Homo sapiens: one gene and its partner. The protein of the gene in region 1 interacts with the protein of each later gene in a pairwise test. Each region holds a gene or a part of one and is shown on either strand. Other genes may lie near its edges.

The links. The genes of interacting proteins can lie anywhere in the genome.
Region 2: the proteins of SPARCL1 (region 1) and SKIL interact in a two-hybrid assay, tested with the Homo sapiens proteins (one large-scale study listed by BioGRID).

Annotation. Positions count from the first base shown.
Region 1 is NC_000004.12:87,480,754-87,484,405, reverse strand, and holds part of SPARCL1 (SPARC-like protein 1 isoform 1 precursor), read left to right. Parts: intron 1-1,845; coding exon 1,846-1,982; intron 1,983-3,652.
Region 2 is NC_000003.12:170,381,710-170,385,361, forward strand, and holds part of SKIL (ski-like protein), read left to right. Parts: intron 1-2,823; coding exon 2,824-3,056; intron 3,057-3,652. UniProt on the Homo sapiens protein: May have regulatory role in cell division or differentiation in response to extracellular signals.

The sequences.
Region 1 (3,652 bases):
ATGCCACACATATACAGCCATCTGATATTTGACAAACCTGACAAAAATAAGCAATGGGGAAAGGATTCCTTATTTAATAAATGGTGCTGGGAAAACTGGCTAGCCATATGCAGAAAACTGAAACTGGATCCCTTCCTTACACTTCATACAAAAATTAACTCAAGATGGATTAAAGACTTAAACATAAGACCTAAAACCATAAAAACCCTAGAAGAAAACTTAGGCAATACCATTCAGGACATAGGCATGGGCAAAGGCTTCATGACTAAAACACCAAAAGCAATGGCAACAAAAGCCAAAATTGATTAATGGGATCTAATTAAACTAAAGAGCTTCTGCACAGCAAAAGAAACTATCATCAGAGTAAACAGGCAACCTACAGAATGGGAGAAAATTTTTGCAATCTGTCAATCTAACTAAGGGCTTATACCCAGAATCTACAAGGAACAGATACAAATTTACAAGAAAAAAACAACCCCATCAAAAAGTGGGTGAAGGATATGAACAGACACTTCTCAAAAAGAAGACATTTATGCAGCCAAAAAACATATGAAAAAAAGCTCATAATCACTCGTCATTAGAGAAATGCAAATCAAAACCACAATGAGATACCATCTCTCACCAGTTAGAATGGCGATCATTAAAAAGTCAGGAAACAACAGATACTGGAGAGGATGTGAAGAAATAGGAACGCTTTCATATTGTTGGTGGGAGTAAATTAGTTCAATCATTGTGGAAGACAGTGTGGCAATTCCTCAAGGATCTAGAACTACAAATACCATTTGATACAGCAATCCCATTACTGGGTATATACCCAAAGGGTTACAAATCATTCTACTATAAAGATGCATTCACACATATGTTTATTACAGCACTGTTCACAATAGTAAAGACTTGGAACCAACCAAAATGCCCATCAGTGATAGACTGGATAAAGAAAATATGACACATATACACCATGGAATACTATGCAGCCATAAAAAAGGATAAGTTCATGTCCTTTGCAGAGACATGGATGAAGCTGGAAACCATCATTCTCAGCAAACTAACACAGGAACAGAAAACCAAACACTGCATGTTCTCACTCATAAGTGGGAGTTGAACAGTGAAAACACATGGACACAGGGAGGGGAACATCATATACCAGGGCCTGTCAGGGGCTGGGGGACTAGGAGAGGGATAGCATTAGGAGAAATACCTAATGTAGATGATGGGTTGATGGGTGCAGCAAACCACTATGGCATGTGTATACCTATGTAACAAACCTGCACATTCTGCACATGTATCTCAGAACTTAAAGTATAATTAAAAAAAAAAAAAAACGGCAGTGATCCTGAGCTCTGGGGAGACTGCAATGAGCAGAGCCCTCCTGCCAACTTGTATTGGACTTGTAGCAGGATTGCAAAATTGACTTCTGTTTCTTTAAGCCACTGAGATTTAGCATTATTTCTTACTGTAGTATCAGCTAATAGCTACCTTTTTCTCTATTCAATAGCACTTGTGCCCTCCACCTACAAATTTCAACTCTGATTCTACAGCAGTGATTCTGGGGCCTAGCTGCACATCCAAATAGATCTTGGAGCTTTAAAAACATCCTGATGCCCAGACTTCACGCCAGACCAATCACATCAGAATTTACTTGATTGGAAGCTGGCATTTGGTATGTTTTTTAAAACCCCAGGCAATTTTGTTGTGCTGCTGCCAGGGCTGAGGACCACTGTCATAATAATGGGGACCTGAGAAAGCTCTGTCAGTTGCCAGAAGTCGTTAAGCTTCCTATTATGAGGACTTGCCATAGGACACAAATAAGCCCAAAGATTACAGTACATTTTCTGCTTGTAACAGCTATTCCTACTTGTACGGACTTTGAAGTGATTCAGTTTCCTCTACGGATGAGAGACTGGCTCAAGAATATCCTCATGCAGCTTTATGAAGCCAACTCTGAACACGCTGGTTATCTAAATGAGAAGCAGAGAAATAAAGTAAGTTATCCACAGGTTAGCTTCTTCAATGTCTGTCTACAGGGCATGAGGAAGAAAGACGTGGTGGGGGGGCTACCTACCTCTGCATACTGGCAAAAGCCCACTATGCTTCCCCATGCCCGGTTAGCCCATGTGGCTTAACAGAATAATAGATGTCACCATTCACGCCACAAGGTTTCAGACACCACCAAACCGCCCCATTCTTCCCAATGGTCAGTGGCCTGAATTAGGGCTCTTCAATTCCTACCTAGAGCAAGCTCTGGTTGAGCAAAGTTAATATAAATTTAGCATTGATCTAGTCAGTCCAAACATCTTATTTAAATCTAAGCATTTGTTTTGTTCTCATAGGCCAGACATAGATGTATGATATAAAGTAAATCCATTACTCAAAATATCAGTAATATATTAAGATTAAAAAGCACAGAACATTGATTCCAAAAGCTTCCAGAGAAAATTCATTCACCAGATAGTTATTGAGTGTATCCTGGGTGCCAGAAATTGACCTAAATACTGGAGATACAGCAACGAAAAGAAAATCTCTGCCTTCATGAGTTTACATTCTGGGTGAAGAGACAGACTCTAAACAAATAAGTATATATGTGTGTGTGTATGTAATGTTTGTATATGCATATATTTGTACATACATATATATGCATATATGCAATTATATATAGTAAAATGAGCATTTATGTAAATATAACCAAATCAGCAAATATATGTATAAGTATGTCAGTTGGGATTAAACATGGTGTGAAGACAAATAAAACAAGAAGGAGGGTGTGCATTAACTGTGTCAGATGCTGTTTATAGGTTATGAGTTGAAGACTGAGAATTGGCCAGGGATTTAGCATGTCAAAGTCATAGCTGACCTTGATAGGAACTGTTCCTGGGGTGGGAGCATGTTTCAGGAGGGAAGCTCCAGTGGACAGAGTTCAACAGAGACTAGGAGGAATGGATGCAGCAAGTATAGACAATCCTTTCAAGGAGTTTTGCTATGAAGAGATAAAGAGAAATGGGGTGGCAGCTGGAGTGGAAAGTGAGTACAAGAGTCCCACCTAGCAGTGGGAGATGGTAGAGGATGTTTGCACGCTTCTGGAAATAACCCAGTCAAGAAGGAAATGTTAGTGGGGAGCAGAGAATGCGCACAACTGCCAGAGGGCGTTCTTCGATACATGTCCCACCCAGAGGAGAGGGATTGGACTTAGGTTAGGAGCACAGGAAGGTCGCAGGGAGCAAAGTTGTGGTTCTGGGAGCAGGTGGAGGTCCTGTTTGCTTCCAATTACTCAGTGAAATAAGAGGCAACATCACAAGCTGAGAGTTTCACAGGCACTGCTCAAGAATAATTTCTAGCCCCCGTCTTGAATACCTTGTCACAGAGAGCCTTGAGGGTATTAGCTATGAAACAGGGAAATTTCAATGGGGCTGGCCAAGCAATAACACACCAGGGTGAAAGCAAGACTGAGTGGGCACTGGATGGATGACCTAGAAGACTAAGAGTGGACTCTGTCATCGGGGGAAGGAGCAGCACTTTTCACTAACTAATCACCTTAGTCAATTCAGCCCTTTTCATTAAAACCTCATAGTTTAAAAAAAAAAAAAAAAAGCAGCGAACATTACTTGGTTAAAAGAAAGAGGCAAAACATACTTAAAATATTTAAAAGTTTAAAAAA
Region 2 (3,652 bases), on another chromosome or scaffold:
GGTGTGAGCCACTGTGCCTGACCACGAATTTATTTCTTTATTTTCAGGCTTTCTTGTTAATCATAGATTATCTTTGAAAATTCAAAATTAGGCTGGGCGCGGTGGCTCATGCCTGTAATCCCAGCACTTTGGGAGGCCGAGGTGGGTGGATCATGAGGTCAGGAGATCGAGACCATCCTGGCTAACACAGTGAAACCCTGTCTCTACTAAAAATGCAAAAAAATTAGCCGGGCCTGGTGGCGGGCACCTGTAGTCCCAGCTACTCGGGAGGCTGAGGCAGGAGAATTGCTTGAACCTGGGAGGCAGAGCTTGCAGTGAGCCGAGATCGCGTCATTGCACTCCAGCCTAGGCGACAGAGCAAAACTGTCTCAAAAAAAAAGAAAAAAAGAAAATTCAAAATTATTTTTAAATAAGTACATTGGTATTTAATGTATTTTTTGTTTCTATTTATCATTATAGGGAAATGGTAGGTGAATTGTATTGTTACTCTTATTAGAAAAAATTTCAAAGAAAGAATCTGAAATGAAATGAATTGTAAATTGCACTGAATATTTGAAATAACCTTTACTATGTGTTTCTATGTGTTTTCTAGAAATAGGTCATTTTCTTTTTGCCCTCAAGTAAAAAATGGAAGTTCTCCTTTAATTTCTTACTTTTCTTCAAGAGGTAAACAAACTCTTCAAGAATTTGGTGTGCAACTTTGATTTTTTTTTTTTTTTTTTTGAGACAAAGTCTCACTGTGTTACCCAGACTGGAGTGCAGTGGCAGGATCTTGGCTCACTGCAACCTCTGCCTCCCAGGTTCAAGCAGTTCTCTTGTCATGGCATCCTGTAGCTGAGCCTGAGCGCCAGCTGTCACTCCTGGCTAATTTTTTTGTATTTTTAGTAGAGATGGGGTTTCACCATGTTGGCCAGGCTGGTTTTGAACCTCAGGTGATCTGCCAGCCTTGGCCTCCCAAAGTGCTGCTAGGATTACAGGTGTGAGCCACCGCCCCGAGCCGCAACTTCAATTTTTTTTTTTTTTTTTTGAGATGGAGTCTCGCTCTGTTGCCCAGGCTGGAGTGCAATGGTATGATCTCGGCTCACTGCAACCTCCGCCTCCCGGGTTCAAGCATTTCTCCTGCCTCAGCCTCCTGAGTAGCTGGGATTACAGGCATCCGCTGCTACGCCCAGCTAATTTTTGTATTTTTAGAAGAGACGAGGTTTCACCATGTTGGCCAGGCTGGTCTCGAACTCCTGACCTCAAGTGACCCACCTGCCATCAGCCTCCCAAAGTGCTGGGATTACAGGTATGAGTCACTGCACCCGGCCTGCAACTTTGATATTTTAAAAAGAAATTCTTTTGAAACTAAGAGCTTTCTTAATAACCGTACTTCTCAAAATCAGAGTTTTACTGTTTCAATAAATGTTCACCCTAGATTGTAAGTTTTTTGTTGTTGAGCCCTAGATTTTTTTCTACTAGTGTAAATCTGTATTCCCTCCAAGTATGGTGATAAGGGGACTGAGTCTTATTTACATTTGTACAATCACTACTTTACCTGTTGTATTTGCAGTAAGTCTTTTGAGCCCTATTAAACCTGTCAATTTTCTTGTCCTGTCAGAAAACTGAGATTTTGGCTCAAAAATGGATGTTATTAACAAAGGGGAACAATATAGATGTCTTAGTACAAAGAAAATGAAATGTAAGAGGAGATTGTCTGGAGTTCAGGGGATAGAGTGTCAAGTCTTAAATGGTTACATCTTTTTGCTAAGTGTTACTCAGAATATAGTTACAAATATGGTACTTAAATATCTAGCTGAAATTTGTTTGTCCCATGAGCTTCTCACATGAGTCTACTGGGCAATTTTATGTGAGTTTTGGTCAAAATTGGTAATCTCTTTTATCTTAGTTTTGCATAATTTATTGTTGCCATTTTATCAAATGAGTAGGAAGTAGTGAAGTATTTCAAGAAGATTGCTCAGTGGGGTTTGATACAAGAACTGCCCAGTAGCTGGGCGACATTCAGAGCTCTCTCTCTGAGGTATATAAGAAGAGCCCTGGGAGCTCCTCACTGAGCCTCCTGTGAGTCAGGACATAGCCTTGCAGTCTGCCACTGAAGCAGCCTCACCAAAGCAAAGATTCCCTGCTTTGGAAGGGTGGTGGGCAAGATAAAGTCCTCCAAAGTAGTTATAGATTATTCTTTTTCTGGAGTAAAACTTACCTGCTCAGAGTTGTTACACAGCTGTATAAAGTCCTTAATGCTTTTAATTCTCAGGTGGTTTTGAGGGAAGGAGAAGAGCCTGTGATTTTCCTTCTGTGTATCTTTTTAGTGCTTAGAAATTACTTGCCAAAAAAAAAAAAAAACACGAAATTACTTGCAAGCTGGTTATGGTTGCTTATGCCTGTAATCCTAGTGCTTTGGGAGTTGGAGGTGGGAGGGTATCACTTGAGCCCAGGAGTTCAAGACCAACTTGGCAGCATAGCAAGACCCTATCTCTAAAAAAAAATGGGTATGTGTGGTCCCAGCTACCTGGGATGCTGAGGCAGGAAGATTGCTTGAACCCAGGAGTTAGAGGTTACAGTGAGCCATGATCATACCACTACGCTCCAGCCTGGGTTACTTGCAAACTAACAAAAAATCCCTTATAATTTTGTTTGTAATGCCTAAAGTGTTGATTTTTTTCCTAAGAATTCTTTACTGTGACCTTTATTTTCTGAGTTGTAATATTGTCTGTTTTGGTTAGAAAAAAAAAAGTTTAACCACAGAAATGCATGTTACATATTTGATTTTTACTTAATTGTAATATGTAATATATGTCTTGTTTTGCTTTTACTTGTTTTCAGCTACTACTTATACATGTGTGATAAAGTGGTTGCCCCAAATGTGTCACTTACTTCTGCTGTATCCCAGTCTAAAGAGCTCACAAAGACAGAGGCAAGTAAGTCCATATCAAGACAGTCAGAGAAGGCTCACAGTAGTGGTAAACTTCAAAAAACAGTGTCTTATCCAGATGTCTCACTTGAGGAACAGGAGAAAATGGATTTAAAAACAAGTAGAGAATTATGTAGCCGTTTAGGTAAGTATTCAGAGATTATCTTTCTAAAATTAAATATCTAATGAACACATTTATTGAGCATTTTCAAACAGGCTTTTTGTTTGAGCTAAATTTTCAGATAATTGGAGCTTTTACCTTTAAAAATGCTACCCTTCAAAACTCTGGGTGATTTATTTTAATCTCAGTTGCTATACTTTTCTAGCGTGGTGATAGCTCAGGAGACTGAGATAGATACAGGCTACCTGGCCTCAGACTGCAAGTTATTTTTGTCCGAATTTTTTTCCTTTCCTACCTTTTATTTGCTGTCAGTCTTCAGGAGATCCTTGTTTTTCTTTCCTCCTTTTTTTTTCTTTTTTTGTGACAGAGTCTTTATCGCCTAGGCTGAAGTGCAGTGGTGAGATTGCGGTCACTGCAGCCTCAACCTTTGGGCTCAAGTGATCCTCCCACCTCACCCTCCCTAGTAGCTGGGACCAGAGGCGCACACCACTGTGCCTGGCTAATTAAAAAAAAAAATTTTTTTTTTTTTTTTTGTAGAGATGGTCTTGGTATGTTGCTCAAGCTGGTCTCGAACTCCTGGGCTCAAGTGATCCTCCTGCCTTGGCCTCTCAAAGTGTTGG